Linked DNA regions of Homo sapiens. The protein of the gene in region 1 interacts with the protein of each later gene in a pairwise test. Each region holds a gene or a part of one and is shown on either strand. Other genes may lie near its edges.

Region 1 (7,143 bases):
GGCAATGTCTTCCCTCCCCACAGCATTCTGCTGCTGGCTGGGGCTGCATCCCACTAAAGACCATCACTCTAGGCACTGCCGCGTGGCAACCTGGGCCACTCTTCCTTCTTCCTTTTTTTTTTTTTTTTTTAAGAGTATTGTGGTCAATTTTTCTTTTCTTTTTTTCTTTTTTTGAGACAGGGCCTCACTATGTTGCCCAGGCTGGTCTCAAACTAGCCTCAAACGATAGTGAGATCATAGTGAGGATGAAGCGATCCTCCTGCCAGGAGTAGCTGGGACTACAGGTGCGTGCCACTGCACTCAGCTAAGATCATTTTTAAAATACAAGGTATGACAGTGAAGTCTGAGGAAATTCCTTTGAATAGATGGACAGGCAGAGAAAACGCTTCTAAATCTAGGAAAAGTTTACGAAGTCGGCTGGGGATTCACCAATTGCCAAACCATGAGGCTGCATCGCTGTTTCTGGTTATGTTTCCAAGGTAAGCATCTCTGTAGGGACACTGAGAGGTGACCAGGGGATCATTTCCCCCAGGGACAACTGCCCCACTGAGCCACCTTGACCAGACCCCCTCGAGGGAACAAGGTTGACACCTCCCAAAGACAGTTCTTTACCTTCTCTGGACAACTGACTGACCACGTTGGCCTGTATCTCAGAACCTTCTACAATTTAGATTTACACTGAACCACTGAGGATAGCAAACAGAACCCAGGATTCAGACAGACCCTCTAATGACTGTGGGCCTAAGGCTGAAGTCTTCAAACCTGCACTCACCACTCATGGATGCTACTCCCAGGAACTTTTCCTTAACATCTTTCCTGTTGGCATCTTGTTTCATGTAAAATAGAAGTAAAGTCTGAGATCAAGGGGGTAGTTTGAGTAAAAAAACTGCAGTATTTTAATTTTAGTTGGATAACCACAGAATGTGCTATGCAACCTATAATTTGCCATTAAAAGGAGAATATGGGGCTGAATCACATTTTCTTTAAATATTACATCCCTCGGTGCCCAAAAAGAGTGTTCATTTTAGAGTTAGACTGGGCAAAATAAACACTGGGTCACAAGTGATAGCTTTGGTTAGAAATGTCTTTAGAACAGGCCAGCATGCATGTTGTCAAATGGCAATGCATGGCCTCTTCCCAGGGTCATGTGGGGCCAGTCACAAGGAAGCTGAATTATTCCCAATTGTCCACACAGGCCTGGTGGCAGGAGGTGAGGGGGAAGGCACGATACTCACAGGAACTTTCCATTTGTCTTTGATCCTATCAGGACAATTTGCTCAGATTCTTCCCGAGAGATTTTTCCATGGAACCAAGGCATTTTTTCATGGGCTGTGGTAGCGATCAGCTTCTCCAGCTGAGGCTTCTGACTGATGATGGCCTGCTCCAGAGCCTGACCCTGCCACATGGAGAGCAAAGCAGAGTAAACCATACCGAGGAAAAATGAAAATGATGCAGAAGGCATTTCCAATCTATCTCGAGTCCTGGCATGGTAAAACAGGATCAAAACTTATTCACTCATTCATTCAGTAAATAAAACCAGAAAGACCTTTACACATTACTTAAGTACTTTCAAGTGTATAAATAAAAATAACATGGCCGGGCACGGTGGCTCACGCTTATAATCCCAGTATTTTGGGAGGCCAAGGAGGATGGTTCACTTGAGGTCAGGAGTTCGAGACCAGCCTGGCCAGCATGGTGAAACCCCATCTCTACTAAAAATACAAAAATTAGCCAGGTGTGGTGGCACATGCCTGTAATCCCAGCTACTTGGGAGGCTGAGGCAGTAGAATCGCTTGAACCTTGGAGCCAGAGGTTGCATTGAGCTGAGATCATGCCACTGCACTCCAGCCTGGGTGACAGAGCAAGACTCTGTCTCAAAAAAATAAAAAATAAAAAAATAAACACACATATCCTTTGCTGTGGCAATCCCAACCCTTTCAAAGTTTATCCTGCAGACGTTGCATACAAGTGTAGTATACGATAGGTCTAGAGCAATGTTGTTAGCAGCGTTTATTCATAAACAGCAAATGTGTCCATCAATAGGTACTAGTTAAATAAATTGTGGTGCATAGCAGGTGATACCAGATAGCCAAAGAACGGGTGATGCAACTATATGAGTGTTGACACAGAAAGTTCTGCAAGAGATATTAGGAAGCCATAAAATCAAGTGCCTATCAGTGTGTATGGTAGGACCTTGTCAGATAAACAGAAACCAATCAACACCTATCAATGCCTCTCTGAAAAGGCCCTCCTTGCACTGGGTAACAGTGGTTCCCTGCTGTGGAGAAACCCACACTGCTGGCACAAAGGGACCCACCCTCTCAGCTGTGGCTGTGAAAGAGGAAAGGCTCTTATCAGAGAGAGGCATTTTTTGGCCAAAATTGATGCTTAAGGAGATGGTTGTGTTATTTGGGCACACAGGGCACATAGGCACATGTGTTGCATGTAGCCAGGAAGTCTGTGTGGGGTCACAGGGCCCCCTGGGCCCAGGGAGCAGGACCAGCTGTGGCCCACCTGCAGGTTCCATGTCTGCTTCACATATTCCCTGATGAGGTTTTCCTTCAAATCCTCAAAGGGCCCAGTCTTGGGCTGCACCCCTTGGGGCCGGTTGAAGGGCTTCTTGAGGAGGCAGACCAGGCCATCAGACTCCTGGGAGTGGTAGTGGCAGAGGTCGGCGGGGCTGGCATGGGTCCTGCCACCGGCGATGGCGTAGGTGCCATTCAGCTCCCGCTCGATGGTGTAGTGGTGTGCCTTCCTCCCGTGGGCCACGGACAGGGCGAAGCCACCCAGGTAGTTGCGGCTCTGGCGCAGCAAATAAAGCCCATCACTCATGCCCCCCTGGACCAGGTAATCTTCTGCCTCCTCCCGGGTGATGTTGCCGAAAAAGAAGGGCAGGTGGTTGGCGCTGTCAGCCATGCCGCTGCTGGCCATGCTTCAGGGGCCGGAGGGCACACACCTGCGCAGGTGTCCACCTGGGCAAGACAGAGACAGAGAACTTTGGTGAGGACCCCACGTGGCAGGGAACGTTTGCTAAAACCACTCAAACCCTTTCAAAGTGGAGACAAACCCTCCCATCTCTGAACAAAGGCACTTCCCTCTTTGGCCCTCCCAACACACAGTTGTCTTTCTGTTCACATCATCATTACAGTTTTCAGCATGCCTTCTAACTAAGCTAAAATCAGAGCATTTGATGGAAGTGACCAAATTAAATAATTCTTTTTTGGGGGGAGTGGGGAAAGACAAAGAATTCTAAAAATAAACATACCGCAAAGAGAAGCAAACAGAAGGGCTATTGCAAAACAGGACTCTTGGGCTGACCCTCAGGGTCCCAGCAGCATACAGGAGGCAGAATCTACATGAGAACAAACCAACTGCTCCTCCTGAGTCCAGACAATGTTAGAGAAGCCTTGCTCCTCATCACAGTGATATTACCAAGGAGGACGCTACCACCACCTCACCCACCTGAGCTGCGAGACGCTGCCTCGAGCAGTCAGTCACACGCTGGTGCTGAGCCCCAGAGGTGAAGTGAGGCCACGTTGAGGGCCCACACGGAACTGTGACTTGTGGTCACCATAAGGCCTTCCCACCTCCAGCCCGGGGCTATGATAGCAACAAGCCACTGCCTGAGACATGAAGAGTGACACCCTCCCTGGCTCCCGAGGCCTGGGGCCCATAGGCTGTCTTCTCCCCGCTTCTCCAGACCACTTCCTGGGCAACGCCACTTCCCATCTGCAGGGCCCGTGCTAAAGAGATAGTGCCGGTTCCCAGCCCACGAGGACATCTGACACAGGAGAGACACTGCTTGCAGTAAATAAATACATTTCAGAAGCAAAAAGAAAGGCGGCCAATGCATATTTAACATGGAGAGTATTCCCTCTCAATCATGGTTGTAAACTAGAAGGATACATATTGCCAGCCCCAAAAGTATCCAAGGAGGCACATTTTAACCAAAAGGGGCTGGTCGTGAATGGAAAATTATCTACATGACTCCATCCATTTATCCAGGGAGCAAAGCGCATGTCCCTCATGGTACACACACACACACACACACACACACACACACACACACACTCTCTCCATACCACATGCACACTACATGCATGCCACACACACTATGAACACATGCCACACCTGCACTACACACACACCATGTACTACATGCACACTATGCACATCACACACACCAAACACACAAACTACATACATACCACACACACGAAACACACTACACACATCACATGCTACACTACATACATGCTACACACACAAAACAGACATGAAACACACCACTGCATGCACACAACACACATCACACACACTACCCCACACACATACACATACACACAAACTACATACACACCACACACATGAAACACACCGCACACACCAAATTCTACGTTACATACACACAAAACACACATGAAACACACCACATGACTACATGCGCACTACACACATCACATACGGTACACCACACACCACACACATCACATACACTACACCACACACACACACTCCATACCACATGGACACTACATGCATGCCACACACACTACGAACACATGCCACAGCTGCACTACACACACACCATGCACTACACGCACACTATGCACATCACACACACACCACACACACAAACTACATACACACCACACACACAACACACTACAAACAACACACACTGCACACACAACACAAATTACATACATACCACATACAACACACTACACACACTACACACACCATGTACTACATGGACACTACACACATCACACACACCAACTACACGTACACCACACACACAACACACTACACATATCACACACTGCACACACAACACACAAAAACTACATACACTCCACATACAACACACTACACACACCACACACACTACACACACCATGTACTACACGGACACTACCCACATCACACACACCACAGACTACATACACACTACACACACAACACACATAACACACTGCACACACAACACACAAACTACATACACACCACATACAACACACTACACACATAACACACTACACACACCATGTACTACACACATCACATACACCACACACACAAAATACATACACACCACACACAGTACACACTACACACATCACACATACTACACACATATCACACACAAACTACATACACACCACACACCATACTAAACACATGCTACACTACATACACACTACACACACAAAACACACACGAAACACACCACACAACTACATGCACACTACACACATCACACACACTACACCACACACATACACCCCCATACTACATGCCCACTACATGCATGCCACACATATGGACACATACCACACATGCACTAAACGCACACCACACACACACAAACTACATACACACTACACACACAACACACTACACACATCTTACACACACTGCACACGTCATACACAAACTACACACACACTGCACACATACTACACACAGTATACACAAACTACATACACAGTACACACAACACACTACGTGCAGCACACAAACTACATACACATTACACACATAACACAGTACACACCCACACACACTGCAAACACACCACACACACAAACTACATACACACGACACACAACACACTACATGCAACACACATACTACACACTACACATAAAAACACACACAAACCACACCACATCACTACATGCACACTACACACATCACACACACTGCACACACACCACACACAAACTACATACATGCCACACACACACCATAGTACACACAACTAACACTACACTACATACACACTACACACACAAAACACACACATGAAGCACACCACACCACAGATCCTGCACCACGATGATGTGAAGCGGCTTCTTCTCAACATGCACTATCCTACAAGGGGCTATAAAATGTAAGAGCATCAGCCTGACACAGGCGACAGAGTTTTCCCCAGACGGTGTCTATCCACAAGTCAGTACTCCTGGGCGAGCCCCTAATGAGGCATGGGTTTTATTATAATTTGAGGGTATTAATCATCATTTCCTGGCTTGCCTCTCACAGCAGTTGACTATCAATGACTTTTCTTTGTCCAACAAGTTTCTAAAAATTCATCTCTTAGCAAGGTGTTTTTGTTTTTTAAAGTATATCTACATTTACTTTTGAGTCTAAGAATGCTGTTAACAGAAAGACATCTCTGGAAACACAGTGTGCTGATGAGTCTCTTGGAAGAAATACTTCTCTTTGGACTGCTTTCCCCTTTCTACAGTTTTTTTTTTTTTTTTTTTTTTAGAAGAGACGGGGTTTCACCGCATTAGCCAGGATGGTCGCGATCTCCTGACCTCATGATCTGCCCGCCTTGGCCGGGCGCGGTGGCTCACGCCTGCATTCTACAATGCTTTTGTTGCAGGCCAGCCACTGCCCCCAGCCTGCTTTTCCCCCACTCCACCCTTTTCCTGCAGTGGGTCTTCTCGGGCCTCCAACCTCATTTCCATTGTTTCCCCTGCAGCCCAGCACGTCTCATACTTCCACGTGGCCTGGGGGCTCTGACACACCCAGGGCCTGAGACGCTGCTGCTCCTGCAATCCTGGTGATGCGGATGCTGGGTTCTGATGCCACCTGAGACCAGGTTCTCCATCTTCTCTGCCTTCCCTGCCCAGGCGGTGTCCCAGCCAGGAACCCAGGAGTCCTCCGCAGGACTTGCGTTCTCTAAGGTTCGTTTTCCAGGCGCCCTTGGTGCATGTTCCTTACTGCCCATATCCATGACCACTGCTTGGCGTAACCCTGTCCTTTCCACTGCTGCCCTTCACTCCTCACCTTCTGCCCTCCTGCTTCCTGACGCCTCCCTCTCCAGCTGCCCGGTCCTCCCTCAAAGCGCACATCAGCCCTTCCTGCCTATTCCAACATGCCCAGTCCACAGACCACACTGGACTGCACCGGGATGCTGTGGCTTTCCCTTCTTGTTCTCACCACGTGTGCTTTCTGCTGAGGCGTGCAGCTCTTCCTCCCAGCCATCTCAGTCATCCTTACAGACCCAGCTCAAATACCCCTGTCACTGTGTACCTGGCCCCGATGCTTGTGTCCCCTCTGCAGGGCCCAGGTTACTTTTTATGTAGTTGCAGAACAGCAGACTGCACCATCAGCTCAAACTGAGACAGT
Region 2 (7,000 bases), on another chromosome or scaffold:
TAAGGACAAATGTAATGCTGCTCATCCTCCCGCTCTTACCCGTGGCAGACATCACTAATCAATCATGTGCTTTTTTTCTGCTGAGTTCAGATATGACCTTAACATCCTTTCCAATGCAGCACTCTAGGCAGCCACGACCAATGGATTGGAGTTGGCATGCAAGATGACACCTCTTTGCCATCCTTGCAATAGATGATGGCTGAGCTCCTTTCCAGCTTTGAACACCTATGGTTTATTCCATCCACATTTCTTGAGAAGTGTGCCAGGTGTGTGTGAAGGTCTCTGGACCTGATGCTCCAAGTTATCCTCACCAAGCTCAGACTTACCGCCTACTGAGGAGGCCCAAGGGGAAGCCATGCCTGTCCTCTGTCCTGAAGCACCTGTCTAGAAAGATTGTGGGGGAGGGTGTGTCTCCAGGCGGGTGGGGGCTGGTGGGGCAGGGGAGGGCCTTGCCCAATCACAGAGTTCTCAGAATGCAGCTGGGAGCCACCTGTATTCTGCAGAGAGAAGGACAGTTCTAGGTCACACCCTCTACCCTCTGCCTCCTAGGTGTACTTGCAGTCTCAAGACATCTGATCTGAACAGACTTTGGCTTCCAGAGAGGGTATCTAAACTCCTCTCATTCATTAATTCAACAAACATCTCCTGAGCACCTGCTCTGTGCCAGGCACTGGGCTGGGTGCTTTGGAAACAGATGGGTAAGTCCCAGCCCCTCCCTTCAGGGAACTCACACTCTAAACTAGGGAAGGGACAGAGAGAAGGAGATGGGAGGAGATGGATGTCTCAGGTGATCAGTGGCATGGCAGGTGTGTGTAAGGCACAGGGGGTGGCCTCTGAGAAGGGAAAGCTGGTCTTGAAGGATGATTAGAAAGTTGCCAGGCAGCGGGAGGATGAGGTTGCAGGAAGTTGCTATAGGCAGAGATACTGGCGGGTGCAAACCCCAGGAGGCTTGAAACCACTTGGTGAGTTTAGAGAAATGTGAATCATTCTAGGAGAATGGGAGTGGCTGGTGGTAAGGCTAAGGAGGTGAGACCCCCCACCCAACCCAAGTCTAGAGTGCTTCATGGGCCAGGCAGCTGCTTCAGCAAGACCATTCTGGCTCTTTGGTGCAGAGTGGATCAGAAGTGGCAAGAATGGTGGTTAGGAAACCAGTTAAGAAGCTCTTGGGAGCCAGGTGAGGTGGCTCGAGCCTGTAATCTCAGCTGAGGTGGGAGGATCACTTGCACCCAGGAGTTCAAGTTTGCAGTGAGCTATGATTGTGCCACTGCACTCCAGCCTGGGTGACAAAGCCAGACCCCAATGATGGGGGCTGGAGCTGGGGGAAGGAAAAATATACTTAGGAAGAGATCCAGCAGGAATGAGTGGCTTACTGGGGGAGTAAAGAGGGAGCTGTGCTGAGGGAGCCCTGGGATTCTGGCTTGGCTAGCTGGGTAGCTGGAGAGTTAGCAATCAGGACAGTGAACATGGGACCGAGCTGTTTGGAGGGCAAGGGTGAGAGCGCTGTTGGCCGTGTTGAGTTTGAGGGGCTCAGGGATGCTGGGGGGAACTGACCAGAAGCTTGGAAAAAAGTTTGGACGGAGATATGGACAGGTGACGTTAGCTCTAGGACAGCAGACGTTGGCAGGGGTGTGGGTGAGCGCGAGCAGGCTCAGGCTGAGCAGGGAGCCTGGGGCACCAGCAAGGAGGGAGGATGGGGAAGGGTCTGAGGAGGGAGGCTGGGGAAGGGCTTTGGGAGGGCCGCAGAGGCCGAGGGAGAGGGTGGGATGGCTGCTGGGGCTAACCCATGGCATGAGGTACTGACTTGAAGGGTAGGCAAGAAGACTTAGGGCTGGGGAGAAGGAAGAGGGAGACAGGGAGTACACAGAAGCAGGCTGGGAGAGCAGGGTCCCCCTCCCCTGAGCTCACTGAGATGACATAAGGGAACCCAAGTGCTCTTTTTCTCCAGGACAGCAGGGCCGTGAAGGCCAAGGGAGAGAGCCAGAGAGGCACGGGGTGGGGTCAGCCCCAGGTGCGTCTGAAGAGGGCCTGCAGGACAAGATGGACGCAGATCAAAAAAGCCTCGATGTGGGAGGTGGAGGGGCACCCTGCCTGGGGGCCTCTGTTTTCTGTGTGAGATAGGAGGGCATGGGGGCTTGACAAAGATGAGGTCTGAGCGACTCTGGGGAGAAGAGGGGGCAGCCTCTGGGCCTGGAGAAGGGAGGCTGGTGCCTGGATCATTCTGTTCTTCCCACATCACCTCACACCTCTGCCCCTTACCCTGCCCCAGGCATCCACTCTGAACACCTTCTTCACCTTCCCCCATCTACCTGCAGGGAGACCTTCTTGCACCTACCTTTCCCTGCATACCCATTTACCTGGCCTCCTGGGACAGGCCTGGACCAGCTCTTCCGTAGGACAGGGTGCCCAAGGGTGGCGGGTAGGCCCTCATCTTCCACTTCCACATAGATGTTGCTGGGGGCTTCCCCAGGGCTGCCCCGGCCCATGGCATAGAAAGCTATGGGTTCATCAGGCTCATTGTAGATAGGATTGGAGGGCTTGGGGCGTGGGGCCGGGCGGTGTCGTGGAACAGGGATTGTGTAGACTTCTGGGGGCAGCTGAGGTTTGGCGGGGATGGGAGGCTTGGGCCTGAGCAGCTGGGAGGGCTGGGAGAGAAGGTGAGGCCAGGGAGGAGTGGGGTGAGGGAGGCAGGGTTAAAGCCCCAGCCTAACTCCCAGCCTGAGCCTCTGCCCCCGCTAGGCCCCTCCTCCTCCCCGCTGCCTGCACCCCCTCGCAGGCCTGTCCTCCCACTCCCTCAGCCCCTGCAGCCCAATACCTCCTTCTCCCCGGCCCCCTCTTTCTGCATCGGGACTGGGGCTTGCCCCTGTTTGATGATTGGGCTGTACTGGGGGTTTGGGTCCTGGCTTTTGCTTCCAAAGTTTGATTCTTCGGTCCTCAGGGAAAGTCCTGCAGGCTCAGGAGTCTGCTGGGAAAGAAGGAGGTCTGAGGCACTCGGTGGAGCGTTGGGGTGGGGGAGGTGATCAGGAGGACAAAATAATCCAGTCTAAGTGGAGGATGGGGGAAGGGGGAGGAGCACAGAAATTTGGCCTGGGCTGGGTTCCCTGGATGAGGAAGAGGGGGTGGTGACGGCAGGGAGACCCAGGGTTGGATGGAGGCAGTGGTAAGCTCTGGTCACAGGCCATATCTAGCATTAAAGTTTTTCTTTTTTAAGATAGAGTCTCACTCTGTTGCCCAGGCTGAAGTGTGGTGGTGCAGTCTCAGCTCACTGCAGCCTTGACCTCCTGGGCTCAAGCTATCCTCTTGCCTCAGCCTCCCAAGTAGCTGGGACTACAGGCATGTGCCACCACACCGGCTAATTGTGTTTTCATTTCTTGTAGAGATGAGGTCTCACTATGTTGCCCAGGCTTGGTCTTGAACTCTTGGGTTCAAGTGATCCTCCCACCTCAGCCTTCTTGCGTCTTAGGATTACAGGCGTAAGCCACCACACTTGGCTGCATTAAACTTAATTTCTTCTGGAACACAGGGCCAGGCCAGATTCCATTTGTGCCTGTGGTTCTGAAAATGCAACATGGCTTTACACGTCTTTAACTGAAAAATTATTGACATGGGGACCAATCTCCATGACAGCTGTGCTTGTGTTTATTTCTGTACTGCCGGTTACTTTATGGAAATATAAGCTATTTTTTTTTTTTTGAGACCAAGTCTCATTCTGTCATCCAGGCTGGAGTGCAGTGGCGCAATCTCGGCTCACTGCAACCTCCGCCTCCTGGGTTCAAGACATTCTCCTGCCTCAGCCTCCCAAGTAGCTAAGATTACAGGCGCCCACCACCACACCCAGCTAATGTTTGTATTTTTTAGTAGAGATGGAGTTTTGCCACGTTGGCCAGGCTGGTCTCGAAATCCTGATCTCAGGTGATCCGCCACTTTGGCCTCCCAAAGTGCTGGGATTACAGGTGTGAGCCACTGCGCCCGGCCATAAGCTAACATTTTTAAGGGCAGAGACCACCTCAGGAGAGAGGAGCCCCATGTGGGATGGTTCCGTCTCACAGAGGGTCTGCTTTTAGCTCCGTGTTAGCCCTTGGTCCATGAATGCTGTCCCCATGCCTGCTGCCACTGTAGGCTAAGGTCACAGGGCTTTTCTTGTGCTCCTGCAATCCACCAAGTGCATGTCTCCATCGGGAGGTGTACTGCAGATATACTGTGGAAATCAAAGAATTCTTTTTCCTGCCCTAACCCCCTCCTCTCTCAGCATCTCCTTCCGGAATAAAAAGTAGCACCTCCACCCTGCTGCCGAAACAGCACCTTAGGAGTCATCCTTGATGCCTCCACCTCCTCCCTCTTGACATGAAATCAAACACAAGTCCTGCTCCTTCCACTGTCTAAATATCGTTCACATCTGAGTACTTTTCTCCATGCACATGGCCAGCACCCTAGTTCAGGCCTCCTGACTCCTCCCCCTGCATCGTCTTGCCCTTCCAATCCACTCTCCAGTCTTCGAGCAGAGCAATCTTACAGAAACTCCCCTAGCAATCCTTGGGTGGCAGCCCATTGCCCCAGAATAAGTCAGACTCCTGAGAGCTTGAGTGACAAGACTCTGTGTGATCTCAGACTTCTACAGCTCTGCCTTCAGGCTTCTCAGGTCAGGCTGGCTCCTCCTCACCCCCAGACTTCCCTACGCCCTGTGAATCTCAGGTCTCTGCCTGTTCCTCACAGAAAAGGCAGTGACCACAGGCACTGTCCCCACTTGTTTTAACTGACCCAAATCAAGTTCTGTGAAACTCTTCTTGTCTAGGTCACCAATGACCTCCTCTCTGTCAAACCTAGTATCAATTCCACCCTCTGCCCTCACCCGCCTTCACTCACTTTCTTCGCTTGGCTTCCAGAGCATCACACTCTTCTGGCTTTTCTCCTCTTTCTGAGCGCTCTGCTCTGTTTTCTTTGTCAGTTCCCCCTCATTTCTGCAAACTCTAAATGCTGGAGACCTGGGCTTCATTTCCTTCCCACCTACACTGACTTCCGAGTGAGATTTCTCCCCTCCTAAAGGTTTTAGAGTCCATCTAAGTGCTGGTGACTCTCAATATTTGTCTGCAGCCCATCCCTTTGTCCCAGTCCCCAGACTCTGAATTCCAGCTGCCTACTTGACATCTCCATGCTGAACTGCACGTGTAGAAAACAGAACTCCTGATCACCTGCCTCCTGCCTGGATGTGTTCCTCCTAGAACTTTTCTCAACTCAGTCAATGACAAGTCCATCTTTTCACACTCCTCATCCAATCCCACAAAAACCCAGCAGCTCCACCTTCTGAGGAGACTTCCACCCTCCTCATGCCTCCTGGAGGCACCCACCTCTGCTACCCTGACCCAGGCTGCCATCATTTCATGTGAAATATTGCTCCTCCCGAAACTTGCCAGGCCATGTCACCCCTCAGCTTGTAAGTCTCCAGTGCCACCTCGTCTCGCTCAGAATAAAACTTCAAATGCATACAAGAGTCTACAGGGCCCCCCTCCCTCACCCCTCTGATCTCATCTCCTACCTCTCTATCCCTCAGTCACCGGATCCACCCATGCTAACTTCCTCTCTGCTCCCATCATTCCTCAGACACACCAAGTCTCCTCCTGCCTCAGGGCCTTTGCACCTGCTGTGCCTGCTGCCGAGAATGCTTTTCCTCCAGTTGTCTGCATGGCTCTTCTCCTATTTCATACAGGCCTCTATTCAGATGTCCGCTTACCCGAGTGGCCTTCCCTGACACCCTGTGTAGAACAGCCCCAATCCTGTCACTCTTCAACAATATTTCACATGAAATGATGGCAGCCTGGGCCAGTGTAGCAGAGGCAGGTGCCTCCAGGAGGCATGAGGAGGGTGGAGGCTGGGTCTGCTTGGAAGGTGGAGCTGCTGGTGGAGCTCTTTGGTTTTCTTGTCAGTGTGTACTCATCATTACTAGACAGACTCTGTCTTCTTTGCTTGTTATCCATATTACTCACTCGTCTGTCTCCTCCTTCTAGAATGGAAGCTCTTGAAGGCAGAGATATTCAGGTCATTTACATTCACTCCTGTTTTTCCAGTGCGCAGAAAGTTGCGTGGCACACAGTGGTCCCTCAGCACTGCCTGAACTTGTGCACCGCTGCCTGCTAGGCTAAATGGTACCCTGTATTTCTTCTTGAATCACAGTCTCCACCCTGGATTTCTATTACTTGTCTGTTTTTGCTGCTGGAAAGTAGGCTTTGTGAGTTTGAGATCCATCTGTCTGTCTTGTTCATGGGTCTGTTCTCAGGGCCTGCCAGCAGTTGGTAGGCCCTAAGTACTCCGTAAGTATCTCTTACATTAAAAAACAAATGACTAGGCTGGGCGCAGTGGCTCACGCCTGTAATCCCAGCTACTCAGGGGTCCCATTCAGGAGACCCCCGCATCCTCCCCTGGCCTCATCCTGGAAGGGCAGCCTGCAGGGGCTGCTACTGCAGCAACAGGGATGGGAAAGTAAGTAGTTGGACTTCCAGATTTCAGAAGTCAAAGCTGAAAATACCAGGTGGAAAATACCAGCATTCGAGGCCTTAGGGATAGGAGGATAATGGGGCCTAGAGGGGGGAAGCTGACTCAGGAGGCTGAGGCAGGAGAATCACTTGAACCCGGGAGGTGGAGTTTGCAGGGAGAGAAGATCGCGCCACTGCACTCCAGCCTGCGCGACAGAGCGAGACTCTGTCTAAAACAAAGCAAAAGAAAACAAAAAACAAAACCCCAAATGACTCTGTGTGCCCCTGGCCTCTCCTTGCCCCTCTGACTCCGTGTGGCTGGGCTGGTCTCTTAAGGACGGTCCCCCAGCACTCATATTTCTCGAAGGGCCTGCCACCCTCCCATGAAGATGAAGATGCCTGGGTAAGGGAGGCATGCCCGAGTGGTGTTTCGGGATGAGAAAGTGCCTGGTGCCGCGTCCTGCGCCTGGGCTCTGAGCGGGAGGGGCGCTGGCCCGAGACCCTGGGCTCTCTGGTCAGGGTCTGGGGCGCGTACC

The links. Proteins that work in one complex are often made in the same cells at the same time.
Region 2: the proteins of SYK (region 1) and SH2D2A interact in binary tests that used the Homo sapiens proteins (3 or more experiments, as listed by UniProt).

What each region holds. Positions count from the first base shown.
Region 1 is NC_000009.12:90,839,687-90,846,829, reverse strand, and holds part of SYK (tyrosine-protein kinase SYK), read right to left. Parts: intron 2,973-7,143; 5' UTR 2,932-2,972; coding exon 2,515-2,931; intron 1,397-2,514; coding exon 1,236-1,396; intron 1-1,235. UniProt on the Homo sapiens protein: Non-receptor tyrosine kinase which mediates signal transduction downstream of a variety of transmembrane receptors including classical immunoreceptors like the B-cell receptor (BCR).
Region 2 is NC_000001.11:156,806,849-156,813,848, forward strand, and holds part of SH2D2A (SH2 domain-containing protein 2A), read right to left. Parts: coding exon 7,000-7,000; intron 2,960-6,999; coding exon 2,813-2,959; intron 2,643-2,812; coding exon 2,355-2,642; coding exon of another isoform or gene 2,289-2,354; exon of another isoform or gene 498-2,288; coding exon 330-497; 3' UTR 327-329; exon of another isoform or gene 1-326. UniProt on the Homo sapiens protein: Could be a T-cell-specific adapter protein involved in the control of T-cell activation. May play a role in the CD4-p56-LCK-dependent signal transduction pathway. Could also play an important role in normal and pathological angiogenesis.